3 separate regions of the Homo sapiens genome follow, and regions 2 and 3 are each linked to region 1. The links come from fine-mapping of genetic effects on gene expression. A gene starts in region 1. Each other region holds a variant in brackets. All regions are shown on one strand. Distances are from middle to middle.

Region 1 (5,000 bases):
GAATATTCCATATAAAGGAAGCAGATATTATTGAGGCTTTTAAGTACAAAAGTATTTGATGCGTTTGAGGAACCTCAGGAAATAAAAGTGTGGTTAGTGTGGCGTGAATGAGGGAAGAGTGACAGGAGATGGAGTTGGTGCAGTGGGCAAGGCCTCCATCGTGTACCATTTTGGTAGACCATGGAAAGCATTTGTATTTTTTTCTTTTTCTTTTTTCTTTTTTTTTGGACACAGAGTCTTGCTCTGTCACCCAGGCTGGAGTGCAGTGGCGCGATCTCCACTCACTGCAACCTCTGCCTCCCGTGTTCAAGTGATTCTTCTGCCTCAGCCTCCCAAGTAGCTGAGACTACAGGCGCCCGTCACCACACCTGGCTAATTTTTGTGTTTCTAGTAGAGATGGGGTTTCACCATGTCAGCCAGGCTGGTCTCGAATTTCTGACCTCAGGTGGTCCTCCCACCTCGGCCTCCCAAAGTGCTGGGATTACAGGCGTGAGCCACCTTGCCCGGCCTGTATTTTTTTTTAAGTGCTATGAGAAGCCACTGAAAATGCTGCTATTGTGTAGGATGCAGGAGGGAAGACATGGGGTCATAGTCCACTTGTGCTGCTATAACAAAATACCACAGGACTGTGTAATTTATAAACAAAAGAAATTTATTTTTCATAGTTCTGGAGGCTGGGAAGTCTAAGATCAATGGGCTGGCCGATTTGGTGTCTGGTGAGGGCTGCTCTGCTTCCAAGATGGTGTCTTGTTGCTGCATCCTCTGGAGGATTGCTGTGTCCTCACCTGGCAGAAGGGATGAAAAGGCAAAAAGGGGCTGAATTCACTCCCTCAGGCTCTCTTATAAGGGCATTAATCCCATTCATGAGGACAGAGCTCTCACGGCCTACTCCCCTCCTTGAGGTCCTCTTCCTAAAACTGTCACATTTTATATGTTTTCATATAAAGTTTGAAGGGGACACAAACATTCAAATCATAGCACATATGGAGATGAATTTGGGTGAGACAATAGTGGTTGTGAGGTGGAGATGTTGTAGAGTGGATAGATTGAGAATTTAAGGTGGAGTCAAGAATATGTGATAATGGACTGGAAGTGAGGTGTGAGGAAACAGCGGAATCAGGGACAATTCCTAGGTTTTTGTCTTAACAATCAAGGGGATAGTAGGGACTTTCGCTTTGAGAAGACTGGGGAGTAAGAAACTTGGATCAAGAGGTTAATTAGGGCCATATTACGTTGTGATGTCTATTAGGCACTCCGGGGGAGATGTCAGGTCAGCTGTTGAATATGATTCTTCTTCACAGATTTTTTTTTACACTTTAAAATTCTTTTTCTCTTTTTTGTAACTTTTTTTGTTGTTGTTTTTATTTTGTCATTTTTTTCTGCTTCTAACACACCAAAACTCACTCCTTCCTTCCTTCCTTCCTTCCTTCCCTCCCTCTCTATTTCTTTCTTTTTTTTTTTTTTTTTGAGACAGAGTCTCACTCTGTTGCCCAGGCTGGAGTGCAGTGGCACGATCTTGGCTCACTGCAAGCTTCACCTCCTGGGTTCACGCCATTCTCCTGGCTCAGCCTCCAAGTAGCTGGGACTACAGGCACCCGCCACCATGCCGGCTAATTTTTTGTATTTTTAGTAGAGACGGGGTTTCACCGTGTTAGCCAGGATAGTCTCAATCTCCTGACCCCTTGATCCATGGGCCTCGGCCTCCCAAAGTGCTGGGATTACAGGCGTGAGCCACCGCGCCCGGCCTTTCTCACTCTTTCTTTCTTTCGAGTCAGGGTCTTGCTATGTTGCCCAGGCTGGTCTCAAACTCCTGGCCTCAAGCAATCCTCCTGCTTCAGCCTCCCAAAGTGCTGGAACTACAAGTGTCCCATCGCACTGGGTCCTTCTTCATAGAGTTAATGGACTAGATTTCAGGATATCTAGAGTTCCCTTCAACCATATTAAAAACATTCAACAAATTGCCAGTTGATTTAATGAATTAGACAACATGCATAGAATGCTATTCCATTAAGTGGTATGCAAAGATAATAATTTTTTTTTTTTTTTTGAGACGGAGTCTTGCTCTGTCGCCCAGGCTGGAGTGCAGTGGTGTGATCTCAGCTCACTGCAAGCTCCACCTCCCGGGTTCACGCCATTCTCCTGCCTCAGCCTGCCGAGTAGCTGGGACTACAGGCGTCCCCCACCATGCCTGGCTAATTTTTTGTATTTTTAGTAGAGATGGGGTTTCATCGTGTTAGCCAGGATGGTCTTGATCTCCTGACCTCGTGATCCGCCCGCCTCGGCCTCCCAAAGTGCTGGGACTACAGGCGTGAGCCACTGCGCCTGGCCCCAAGATAATCATTTTTAATCTAAAAAAGTAGATTATAAAACAGTTACCTATGGTTTGCCACCATTTTTAAGAATACAGTATATTATAACAACTCATTGGAAGCTTGAAGCAGATAGAATGGAATCTGAGCAGTAGCTACTTCAGGTGCTGGGGTGAGTGTCGTTTTATCCTTTTAAATTCTTGTTATTGGTAATTTAAAATGTTTTCAATAATCATGCATTACCTGTATAACGTTTTTTTTAAAAAAAAAAAAATCCATGGTCTCTTTCAGCTGGGCAGTCTGCGGCTGGGTAATCTGTCAGGTGAGGGACATCAAGGTGATCAGACTGAGAGGATGGACCAGATACGAAGTGGGAGAGGCGAAGAGGCCCAGTTCCAGGGCCGGGGGCGAGGGGTGGGCGGTCCAAAGGGCACCGCCCCTGCGGGTCACGTGCTCGCCGACCACCAATGGCCGCCTCCGAGCCCACCTTGGGGACGGGGCGGGGCGCCTGGCTGGCGTCACCAGGACAACGGGCGTCGCCGGCGCCGTGTGACTTCGGGCTGTGGGCTCGCTCGCGGCTCTTCGGCCATGGTGAGTCTGGGACCCGCGTCTGCCTAGCTGCCCCGCCCTACCCCTACCGGGCTGGGTCCGCACGCCGCCGCCCGCTAGGGTCGGGCAGGCGGCGCAGGGGTCGTGGAGAGGCCGGGCCGCGGCCTGCGAGGCTGCTGGGCAGGGCAGGGCTGGGCGGGCCCGGGGAGGGGTAACCTGGGGGATTCAGAGCGCCCGCCTGCCGGGGGGCGACCGCGATGCAGCGTTCCCTGCCGCTGGAGTCGGGGTGACAGCCCGGACCCCCACCCAGTGGGCCGCCGGACGACGTGACGCTGTTTGGCCCGAGAGAGCCTGGGAAGCCACCCAAGGAGGGTGTGGTTAAAAAAAAAAATCTTGTATATGGATATCATATGTATTTATATTTACACTAAAGCAGTCTATATGCCTCCAGTTTTGTTTCTATGCAGTTATGTGTAACTAATATAAGACATATATCTTCCTTTCAAAATCAGCATTCTGATAGGTTTTTTAGCACGTGGAAATTAAAATTTTTGATTTTAGAGACCCCTCCCCTCCTTTCTAAAAAATAGAGGGCATTAAGCTGGAGGGTTTTTTTTTCTGAGTGCCGCACCCTCACTAAGGGATTTAATTAATTCATAATTAGTGCATTGTAAACGTCTTAAATCATTACCTTTGTTCAGTTAACTTCAGACGGCGTGGGCATAACACCTGGCCCCCTTTAAGCTCGTTTTAAAAACGTTGCTCGGTTTCACTCGGCGGAGGTGCTGGCTTGAACAGACAAGTTCAGAGAATTGCCAACCGAAGGCATAATTCTCCAGAGGCCTTCACGGGGTGTAAGAGAAGAGAGGAGCTAGACTCCTTGCTTGGGGACACACCCTTGGTATAGAATACTTGAGGAGGTATGGCGGTAGGTGTAGGTAATAGGGAAATACTTAGTTTTGTTTTAACCATGAGTAATTAAGTGGAGATTTTCTCCTTATCTGCAGGAGTTTAGTGGAAGTGCTGATGAGCTGAGAATGCAGGGTGCTCCCCGAGTGCCAGCTGGCCTCATGGAGAAAAAACTATCATTAGGAATCCTGGCTGGCTCAGTTTTTTTCTTAATAACCAAGGAGAGGGATGGTGGTGGGAGGTGGATGGTGTCTCTCATTGACTCTGGAAAAGCAACTTCCAAATGTGTGGCATTATTGCTGGCAGGAGAAAAACATCACCCATAAATCACAGTACCATGTAATGCCTTTATTTTGTGTATGTTTCTTTTTTAAATTGCGAATTGCTTTTTAAGTGACAAATTAATGGAGCTGGCAAGAGTTTCAGAAACTGAATTTTATGAAGATATAAGTGTTTCAAATATTGCAGTAATTTACTGTAATATGTTATATGTGAGAAAAGCCCTAACAATTGTAGCAAGGAGAAAGAATATCCAGGAATTAATTTTTCACAGCTCTCTGAAGTCTCATATTCCTCCTGTCATCCATTTTCCTTTATTTTTACTTCTTCCACTTCTTTCGTTCTGACCCACAGCCCACCCTCATTCACTATTGTGAATTTTAGAGTTTTACTTTAAAATAAAAGCATTTACTGTAGTTTTGTATTAGTGGTTGCTTTGCTGAACTTAATAATGCTTTGCTTTTTGTTTGTCTTTAAGCATTAAGAATTTAACTCACAGGAGCTTAATTGATTGATAAGGTGTCCAGGCTTCCATGGAAGTGGGGAATGGTTGGTACAGGAGGGAGAGGGATGAAGCGGCTGCATATATATGTCATCCCCAAAACTGTATTCTTTTTTTTTTTTTTTGAGACGGAGTCTCGCTCTGTCGCCCAGGCTGGAGTGCAGTGGTGCGATCTCGGCTCACTGCAAGCTCCGCCTCCCGGGTACACGCCATTCTCCTGCCTCAGCCTCCCGAGTAGCTGGGACTACAGGCGAGTGCCACCACGCCCAGCTAATTTTTGTATTTTTAGTAGAGATGGGGTTTCACCATGTTGGTCAGGATGGTCTCCATCTCTTGACCTTGTGATCCTCCTGCCTTGGCCTCCCAAGCTGGGATTGCAGGCTTGAGCCACCATGCCTGGCCCCCAGAACTGTGTTCTAAATCACATTACACTTCCTTAACTGCTTGAATCT
Region 2 (5,476 bases), 25 kb before region 1:
CACTGGGGATTACATTTCAACATGAGATTTGGGCAGGGACACCTATCCAAACCATATCAGATCCCCTCAAGCATTTATCTTTTGTGTTACAAACAATCCAATTATACTCTTTATTTTAAAATGTACAATTAAATTATTATTGACTATTAGTTACCCTGTTGTGTTATCAAATACTAGGTCTTATTCATTCATTCTAACTATTCTTTTTGTACCCATTAACCATGCCCTCCTCACCCCCCACCCCACAATATCCTTCACTGCCTCTAGTAACTATCCTTCTGCTCTCTATCTCCATGGGTTCAATTTTTTTTTTTTAATTTTTAGATCTCACACATAAGTAAGAAAATGCGATGTTTGTCTTTCTGTACCTGGCTTATTTCACTTAACATAGTGACCTCCAGTTCCATCCATGTTGATGCAAATGACTGAATCTCATTCTTTTTTTTGTGGCTGAATAGTACTCCATTGTGTATAAGTACCATATTTTCTTTATCCATTCACATGTTGATGGACACTAGGTCACCTCCAAATCTTGGCTATTGTGAACAGAGCTGCAACAAACATGGGAATGCAGATATCTCTTTGATATACTGATTTCAACAAGCATTTATTATCTCGCAGTTTCTGTGAGACAGGAATCCAAATGTGGCTTAGCTGGATGTTTCTGGCTTAAGGTCTCTTACAAAGCAGCAATCAAGTTGTTAGCTAAGGGCTATGGTCATCCCAAGGCCCAAATAAGGGAGGATTTACTTCCAAGCTCATTTATGTAGCTATGGACAGAACTAGGGACTGGAGACATCAATTCCTTATCACACAGGATTGATGGTTATCTATTCTTTCCATAGGGCAACTCATGATGGCAGCTGCTTCCTTGAAAGTGAGCACGAGAGCAGGAGAGACTGCCCAAGGAAAAAGTCACTGTCTTTCTGTAACCAAATATCAGAAGTGATATCCCATCACTTCTGCTGTTTTCTATTTGTTAGAAGACAGTAAGTCCAGCATATACTCAGTGGAAGAGTATAATACACAGGCCTGACCACAAGGAAGCAAGGATCATGAGAGCCACCTTAGAAACAGTCTGCTAAAGGAATGCAGTGTATTCCTGGAGCAGATAGGAAAAAAAAAAAAAAGACATAGTTGAGACAGTTGGTGGAATTTGAATGGGGTCTGTGGATTGGATGGCAGTGTTGGATCAATGTTGATTTCCTGAGCTGGAGGACTGCTTCGTGGTAACAGAGGAGAATGTTCTTGTTTGGGGGAAGCTCTAATTAGTGTTTAGGGATAATGCAGCATCATGCCAGTAAAGTATTTTATAATTATATATCTATCTACCTCTCTACTGAGCAAAAGTGAAGCAAATGTGATAAAATGTTAGCAATTAGGGAATCTAGGTTAAGGATATGTGGGAGTTCTTGTACTGTTCTTGCAACTTTTCTTTTACCATAACTTTCTGTGGGTTTGAAACCATTTCAAATATTTAGAAAAAATTCTAAAAAATAATATGAGTTAAGTAAGGGTTGAGGATAAAAGGAAGAAAAACTCATACTAGAGTTCTTGTTTTATTTGGTGGAAAGAGCGACTGATTAACTACTTTGACAGAAAAATGTTTGTGTGTTTATTTTGATATTTTAAGAGTAATTACTAAAAGTTTAGAAACAATGTGTATATCTTTCAAACAAGTAGAGGGAAAAATGAAAAACTTGTTCAATCAAACAGTAAGGAAGAAACAAGCAAAAAGACCCAAACAATAGTACCTGGAACCTATAAAATAAGTTTGCAGAAACAAGTTCAAATACAACAGTATTCATAATAAATGTGGACAGATTAAACTCATCAATTCATAGAGAGGGCATCTCATATTGCAGATACAACATATTCCTATATAAATCACGTACATAATACATAAATGCATATGTATGAAAAATTATCTATAAACTCATCTATTCAAAGACAGGGCATCTATCTATGCATGCATATATGTGAAAAATTGTTTATCTTTCTATCTATCTATCACCTAAAATCAACCTTCCAAAGGACACAACCTAGAGCAAAACAACACAGAAGCTGGGCATGGTGGCTCATGCTTGTAGTCTCAGCTACTTGGGAGGTTGAGGCAGGAGTATTGATAGACCCCAGGAGTTCAAGGCCAGCCTACATAACACAGTGAGACTCCCTTCTCTAAAACAAACAAAAACCTGGTGAAAGAAACACAGAAAAATTAATAACAAAGGAATAGAGAAAGATACACCAGATTAATAATAACGCAAGATATCTGGTAAAGTAATAAAGAGTAAATAGGATTCACGGTGAAAAATTCAGGACCAAGAGGGATATTTCATATTGATAAAATGACAAATTGTCAAGATGATATTTGTTAAGAATGTGTAGGAGCTAAAAACATATATATTTTTTAAAAGCTATTTTATTAAGATATAATTTACAAACCATGTATTTCACCCATTTAAAGTGCACAATTCAAGGGTTTTTAGTATATTCACAGATAGGTACAACCACCACCAGTCGGTTTTAAAATATTTTCATCACTCGGAAAGAAACCTCATACCCTTTAGTCATCATCACCCTACCAACCCATTCCTCCTCCAGCCCTAAACAACTATTTTCTATCTCTATAGATTTCTGAACTTTCATGTGAATGGAATCATATAATAATTGGGCTTCTGTAACTGGCTTCTTTCACTGCACAATGTTTTCAAGACTCATCCAAGTTCTAGCATGCATCAGTACTTCATTTCTTTTCTATGGCTGAACATTACGTTATGTGGATATACCACATTTTGTTTGTCTATTCATCTACTGATGGACATTTGGTTTGTTTCCTCCTTTTGGTTATTATGGATAGTGTTTCTATGA[A/T]CACTCAGATAAAAATTTTTGTATAATCATGTTTCCACTTTTCTTGGATATTTACTTACAAGAATTGCTGGGTTATATGGTAACTTTATGTTTAAGCATTTGAGAAACTGTCAAACTGTTTTCCACAGTGGCTGTACCATTTTTATATTCCCACCAGTAGTTTATGAGAGTTCCAATTTCTCCACATTGACACCAGCACTTGTTACTATCTGACCTTTTGATTCTAGTCCTCCTAGTGGGTGTGAAGTGGTATTTCACTGTGTGGGTTTTTTTTTTTTGTTTGCTTGGTTTTTGTTTTGTTTTGAGACAGTCTCACTCTGTCACCCAGGCTGGAGTGCAGTGGCATGATCTCAGGTCACTGCAACCTCCGCCTCCTGGGTTCAAGTGATTCTCCTGCCTCAGTCCCCTGAGTAGCTGGGATTACAGCTGCCCACCATCATGCCTGGCTAATTTTTGTATTTTTAGTAGAGATGGGGTTTCACCATGTTGGCCAAGCTGGTCTCAAACTCTTGACCCTCAAGTGATCCACTTGCCTCAGCCTTCAAAAGTGCTGGGATTACAGGTGTGAGCCACTGTGCCTGGTCTTCATTGTGGTTTTGATTTGCCTTTTCCTGATTAATAATTCTAAGTATCTTTTCACGTTCTTATTGGCTATTTATATATCTTTCTTAGAGAAATGTCTATTCAGAGCCTTTGCCTATTTTTAAGTTGAGGTATTTTTCCTTTTATTATTAAGTTGTAAATATTCTTTATACATTCTAGATACAAGTCCCTTATCAAATACATGATTTGCAAAAAATTTCTCCCATTCTGTGGGCTGTCTTTTCTCTTTCTCGATTGTGTCGTTTGAGACACAAAAGTTTTTCATTTTGTTGAAGCCCCATTTATCTATTTTTTCTTTGGTTGCTTGTGCTTTTAGTGTCATATCTAAGAATTCTTTGTCAAATCCCAGGTGGCGAAGATTAATTTCTATATTTCCTTCTAAGAATCTTCTATTTTTTAGCTCTTACATTTAGGTCTTTGATCCATTTTGAGTTCATTTTTTGCTTGGTGTAAGGTAAGAACTCAACTTTACTTTTGTTTTTGCATGTGGATATCTAGTTATCCCACCACATTTTGTTGAAAAGACTATTATTTTTCCTATTGAATGATCTTTACCTCCTTGCTGAAAATTGACCATAGATGTATGGGTTTATTTCTGGACTCTCAATTCTATTGCACGGACAATATAGCTTTAAATTTTATATAACACAAAAATTGACAAAGGATGCAAAAGAAATTGACAGCCACGGTGGAAGTTTAAAAAACACTTCTTGGCCAGATGCAGTAATCCTAGCACTTTGGGAAGTCAAGGTTGGAGGATTGCTTGAGGTTAGGGGTTCAGGACTAGCCTGGGCAACATGGCAAGACCCCGTCTCTAAAAAAAATTTAAAAATTAGCTGGTGGTATGCACCTGTAGTCCTAGCGACTCAGCAGCCTGAGTTGGGAGGATCATTTGACCCCAGGTGTTTGAGGTTGCAGTGAGTTATGATCACAGCGTTGTACAGATGGCAAATAAGCAAATGAAAAGATAAAGATAATATCATATATCATTAGAGAACTGCAAATTAGAACAATTATACACCACTATATACCTATTAGAATGGCTAAAATCCAAAACTTCTGGTGAGGCTATAGAGTAACAAGGATGCTCATCCATTGCTGGTGGGAGTGCAAAATGATACAGCCACTTTGGACGACAGTTTGGCAGTTTTTTAAAGAAAGCTAAATATACTCCTTCCATATGACCCAGCAATTGTGCTTCTTGGTATTTACACAAATGAGTTGAAAATGAACACAAAAACCTGCATACAAAGTTTATAGCAGCTTTATTTATAATTACCCAAACTTGGAAACAACCAATATGTCATTCAGTAGGTGAATGGATAAACAGGTACATCCACACAACAGATTATTATCAGCAATAAAAATAAAAGAGCTGTGAAACCATGAAAAGACATGGAAGAACCTTAAATGTATATTGGTAAGTGAGAGAAGCCAGTCTGAAAAGGCTCCATACTGTATGACTCCAACTACTACATTTTGGAAAAGGCAAAGGTATAAAGACAGTAAAAATGGCCGGATGTGGTGGCTCACGCCTGTAATCCCAGCACTTTGGGAGGCTAAGGCAGGCGGATCATGAGGTCGGGAGATCGAGACCACCCTGGCTAACACGGTGAAACCCCGTCTCTACTAAAAATACAAAAAATTAGCCGGGCGTGGTAGCGGGTGCCTGTAGTCCCAGCCACTTGGGAGGCTGAGGCAGGAGAATGGTATGATCCCGGGAGGCGGAGCTTGCAGTGAGCCGAGATCGCGCCACTGCACTCCAGCCTGGGTGACAGAGCGAGACCCCTTCTCCAAAAAAAAAAAAAAAAAAAAAAACCAGTAAAAAGTTCAGTATGGGGCCGGGCGCGGTGGCTCACGCCTGTAATCCCAGCACTTTGGGAGCCCTAGGCGGGCGGATCACGAGGTCAAGAGATAGAGACCATCCTGGCCAACATGGTGAAACCTCGTCTCTACTAAAAATACCTGCTAACAAAAGTTAGCAGGTCGTGGTTGTGGGCGC
Region 3 (5,476 bases), 210 kb after region 1:
TAGGATATGGACGTTGTTGGGGAGCTATTATTTTGCCTGTCACACTCCACTACCTTCACGTCTTTGCTCAATATCCCTTTCAGTAGGGTCTTCACTGACCAGCCTTCATAAGATCGCATTATGTCTCTGCCTTTAAAAAATCCCCCTTCCTGAGCCGGGTGCGGTGGCTCACGCCTGTAATCCCAGCACTTTGGGAGGCTGAGGTGGCTGGATCACCTGAGGTCAGGAGTTTGAGACCAGCCTGGCCAACATGGTGAAACCCCATCTCTACTAAAAAATACAAAAAATTAGCTGGGCATGGTGGTGGGTGCCTGTAATCCCAGCTACTCAGGAGGCTGAGGCAGGAGAGTTGCTTGAACCCAGGAGGTGGAGGTCGCAATGAGCCGAGATGGCGCCATTGCACTCCAGCCTAGGCGACAAGAGCAAAACTCCATCTCAAAAAAAAAAAAAAAAAAAAAAAATCCCCCTTCCCCGTTTTTTTAGTGCTCACTACTATCTCATGTATGCTATATTTTTCTTATTTATCTTTTGTCTCTAACCAGAATATGAATTCCATGAGAGAACAGATTTTTGTCTACTTTTTCAGTGCTGTATTCCTAGTGCCAAGAACAATGCTTGACATTTGAATAGATGTCCAAGTACAGTTGAATATATATATTTTTAATGGAATGTAATTATATTTGTAGTATTTATTTCTCAGAAGAATAAACTTGATTGGTAACTTGAGTCAGGCTAGTTGGTATTTCATGATGATACAACATGAAATTTCATTAACAAAGGGTGTGTAATCTTAGGGATGCAGTACTGGAATTCCCTTATTGCAGTTAATACATTTGTATATAGATTTCCTATGGGAATGTGTAATGAAAAAAAGAAGCTGCTAACTGGAAGCATTAAAAGTGGAATCCATGAACTGCTTGTTAGTTGCTAAAATAAAGAATTTTGAAATCAGAGTATCATGCAATATTAAAATTTGTGTTATCATAAATAACTCTAGATTAGTGCTTCTCAAACTTTAATATGCATATGAATCATAAACTATAATGTGCATATAAATTACCTGGGAACATTGTCAAAAATGCAGATTCTTACTCAGTAGGTCTGAGGTAGGGTCTGGCATTCTGTATTGAGTTTCTGGGTGATGTTGATGCAGCTGTTCTGTGGAATAGCAAAATGTTTCATGACATTAAAACCAGAAATTTCAAAAGTAATACTTTTTCTTTTGTAGGAAAGATGTTAAAAGCTGAAGTCTGGGAATCTGAAGCAAGAATCAGTCTGATCAAATCGTACCATCATGGGTTACTGATGTGATAGGGTATTTTCTGAACTGAAATATCACTTTCCTTTGACCAAACATCATGCACTGAAGACTGACATTTGTGATGTATAACGGCTGGTTTAAACATGAAGGCAGGGAAAAAGGCAGACTGTGGAAAAGTAGACTGAGGAGTGGCGAGGGATCAAGGAAGCAGAAGAAAAGACTGGAACGCCTACTTAATTTTTTGTAGGGTGTATTTGTCTGTTTTCACGCTGCTGACAAAGACATACCTGAGACTGGGTAATTTATAAAGAAAAAGAGGTTTAATGGACTCACAGTTCCATGTGGCTGGGGAGGCCTCACAATCATGGCGAAAGGCAAAAGGCATGTCTTACATGGTGGCAGACAAGAGAGAATGAGAGCCAAGTGAAGGGAAATCCCTTATAAAACCATCAGATCTCATGAGACTTATTCACTACCACGAGAACAGTATGGGGGAAACCATCCCCATGATTCAATTATCTCCCACTTGGTCCCTCCCACAACATGTGGGAATTGTGGGAGCTATAATTCAAGATGAGACTTGGGTGGGGATACAACCAAACAATATCATAGGGTAAGACTTTCATAAATACAAATCTATATTTACATAAATGAAATTATTAATATATCCCACATGTCAAACACTCTTTCTTCTCTCTTCCTTAGTCCTCCTACCCCACCTCCATGTTGCATGTCTGCAATCTTGAATGTATCCTTGCATCTTTTCCCAAACTTAAAATCATATATCATTCACACATGCATTGATTTTTTTTGGTTATTGTTTTTGTCATCATGAACAGCACACATCTGGAAGTGCTGGTGTAATTTATCTATTTTTTAAAGAAAATCAAAGAGAGGAAAATCTTAGAAACCTTTAGAATATCCATTAATACCATTAGGCTTTTAACAAAACTGTCCCACTCTCCTGGCTCATGAGATTGCTACTTTCCAAAAAGGAGTCGCTTTTAACTCTTAGTGATTTTATCTGGTATTCTGTTCTAGACAATATCTATTGGCTTTTTTTTTTTTCTTTTTTTTTTGAGAAGGTGTCTCGCTCTGTCACCCAGGCTGGAGTGTAGTGGCGTGATCTCGGCTCACTGCAACCTCCACCTCCTGGGTTCAAGCAATTCTCCTGCCTCAGCCTCCCGAGTAGCTGGAACTACAGGCACCCACCATCATGCCTGGCTAATTTTTGTATTTTTAGTAGAGATGGGGTTTCACCATGTTGGCCAGGCTGGTCTCGAACTCCTGACCTCAGGTGATCTGCCCCTCTTGGCCTCCCAAAGTGTTGGGATTACAGGCATGAGCCACTGTGCCCGGCCAGCTTTTTTTTTTTTTTTTTTTTTTGAGACAGAGAGTCTCACTGTGTGGCCTAGCCGGGAGTGCAATGGTGCAATCTTGGCTCACGGCAACCTCCGTCTCCCAAATTCAACTAATTCTTGTGCTTCAGCCTCCTGAGTAGCTGGGATTACAGGCGCGTGCCACCATACCCAGCTAATTTTTTTGTATTTTTAGCGGAGACGGGGTTTCGCCATGTTGGCCAGGCTGGTCTTGAACTCCTGTCCTCAAGTGATCGGCCTGCCTTGGCTTCCTTCCAAGTGCTGGGATTACAGGTGTGAGCCACTGCATCCGGCT[C/T]TATTGGCTTTTTACAGTGGAAGGTGAGGATTCAACTCTACATACCTCCTGCATCATCACGGTTATATCAACTTTTTGGTTAAGTCAGCTTCCATTATTGTTATGTGTGTTTAAATATTAGTCATACATGAGGATATAGTGTATTGTGATACAGCCTTTGCTTTTCATTTGCTTTATTGTGAAGTTTACCTATGTTAATTCACTTCCCAAATCTGAAGAAGTACCCTCAATGTATCCACTCATCAAGTAAATCCTCCTCTTTCTTTCCCTTGGAGACCTTCCTCCTAGAATCAACTATACCCAGTTCTCATCTGGGCTGGCTACTCCTCCATCAGGATGTTGTATGATGTCTTCCTGAGACTCTCTTCACCATCCAGTCTTGAAGACAGACAAGCAAAGCGAGAAAGGACAATTGGGAAAGGATGATGTAATCAGAAGGATCAGCAGTCTCAGTGAGCTGCTGGAACATTGGGAATTGGAGGTGAGGGAGCTGCAACCACGGAGCTCTTGCTGCCCTGACCAGCCCTGCTTTAGGTTATTCAACATCTACCTCCAAGACAAATGTTGTTTGAGTTGCATTGTGAGGCCTCATTATATTAATGCTTCCAGTAAAAAAGAGGATATAGAAACTGCATCTTCTTCTTTAACAACTATGAATATTACTTTACTTGAGTACTTACCTAGGTCGCATATGTACATTTTTAGAAACTCAGTATTTTCATGCACCAGTCATTCAAAAGCAATTTTGAAATGCCATAGGATTTTTTTTAAGGTCTTAATGGACACTCATATTCATAAAGAGGGAAAAATCTTAAAAATGTTCATGTAGAATAGCTAGGGCATTTATAGCACACACAGAGATTAAGTTTTCTATCTCTGGCCTCAGACAGTCTGGGTTTAAAGACTGGTTACACAACTTGTAGGCTACAAGACCTTGGGCAAATCAGTTAACTTCTCTAAGTCTCAGTCTCTTCTTCTGTAAAGTAGGAATGATGATAAAATAATAATAATAATAACACCTGCCTTAAATATTCTAATTAAAAGAAGTAATGCATCTAATGTACTTGGTGCAAGACCACATAGGAAAGAACAATTAGCATAAAGCATTTATTATGTATTTTTTTGCTGAAATATAAAGCAGCAACAAAAGTCTGAATGTGAAAAGCCATAGGACAATTTTATTGTTTTTAGGGGATTTGGATATTCTTTTTTTTTTTTTTTTCTCGCTCTATTGGCCAGGCTAGAGTGCAGTGGCATGATCTCGGCTCACTGCAACCTCTGCCTCCCGGGTTCAAACAATTCTCCTGCCTCAGCCTCCCAAGTAGCTGGGATTACAGGCGTGTGCCACCACGCCTGGCTAATTTTTGTATTTTTAGTAGAGACAGGGTTTCACCATGTTGGCCAGGCTGGTCTCGAACTCCTGACCTCAGGTGATCTGCCCGCCTCAGCCTCCCAAAGTGCTGGGATTACAGGCATGAGCCACCCTGCCCATCCAGGATTTGGATATTCTAAAGGCTCACTGCACTAATTCATTCCTGTATTCGTTTATTAAATGATTATTAAGTACTTATTATGTTCCAAGTATTGTTCACAGTGCTGGAAACACATAAATGGTTAAAACAACAACAACAACAAATGCCTGTGTGGCATTACTCACAATAGCCAAGAGGTGGAAGCAATCCAAATATTCATCAGTGGATGAATGGATAAAGAAAATGTGATAAATACATATAGTGGAACTGTTATGCAGCCTTAAAAAAGAAGGAATTCCTGTCATGTGCTACAATATGAATGAATCTTTGAAGAAATTATGGTTAAGTGAAATAAGCCAGTCCCAAAAGGATAAATACTATATGATTCCACTTATATGTAGTATCTAAAGTAGTCAAAAATCATGAAAACAAAGTTGAAAAGTGGTTGCCAAGGACTGAGGGAAGTGGGAAAGAGGAATCAGTGCTTTTTTTTTTTTTTTTTGAGATGGAGTCTTGCTCTGTCGTCCAGGCTGTAGTGCAGTGGCATGATCTTGGCTCCCTGTAAACTCTGCCTCCCAGATTCAAGCGATTCTCCTGCCTCAGCCTCCTGAGTAGCTGGGATTACAGGTGCGTGCCACCATGCCCAGCTAAATTTTGTATTTTTAGTAGAGACGGGGTTGCACCATGTTGGTCAGACTGGTCTCGAACTCCTGACCTTGTGACCGGCCTGCTTCGGCCTCCCAAAATGCTGGGATTACAGGCATGAGCTACTGTGCCCGGCCGAATCAGTATTTTATGAAAGTATAGAGATTCAGTATTCTAAGATAAAAAAGTTCTAGAGATCTGTTGCAAAACAATGTAAATATACTTAACACTCGAACTTTACACTTAAAAATGGTTAAGATGACAAATTTAATGCTATGTATTTTTTATCACAATTAAAAAATTAAAGCGTGCAATTGGCAAATGAACTGCTGGGTTTACGATCGTTAAGGTGGAACAGTTCAGGGCCAGGCTGGGGAAATAACTGAGCTTGAAGGAAGGCAGCAGCAGTCAGGGACGTCAGCTG

What was found. PIP is the estimated chance that this variant, and not a neighbour inherited with it, causes the effect.
Region 2: its variant is the best candidate, but not a certain one, in a credible set for the expression of FBXL2 in unexposed skin (GTEx, PIP 0.78).
Region 3: its variant is the best candidate, but not a certain one, in a credible set for the expression of FBXL2 in gastroesophageal junction (GTEx, PIP 0.79).

Annotation. Positions count from the first base shown.
Region 1 is chr3:33,274,616-33,279,615 of GRCh38, forward strand. FBXL2 (F-box and leucine rich repeat protein 2) reads left to right here and starts at 2,827. Exons shown (of 15, transcript NM_012157.5): 1 at 2,827-2,900. The coding sequence starts at 2,898. LOC124909362 (a long non-coding RNA gene) reads right to left here and starts at 2,739. Exons shown (of 2, transcript XR_007095861.1): 1 at 2,553-2,739; 2 at 632-785. RefSeq lists silencers at 2,648-2,717, 2,782-2,949, 2,918-3,097.
Region 2 is chr3:33,249,817-33,255,292 of GRCh38, forward strand. No RefSeq gene overlaps it. Among named protein-coding and RNA genes, the nearest start is that of FBXL2, 25 kb to the right of the region's middle. The variant A/T (reference allele first, on the strand shown) is at 2,872.
Region 3 is chr3:33,485,088-33,490,563 of GRCh38, forward strand. No RefSeq gene overlaps it. Among named protein-coding and RNA genes, the nearest start is that of UBP1, 47 kb to the left of the region's middle. The variant C/T (reference allele first, on the strand shown) is at 2,936.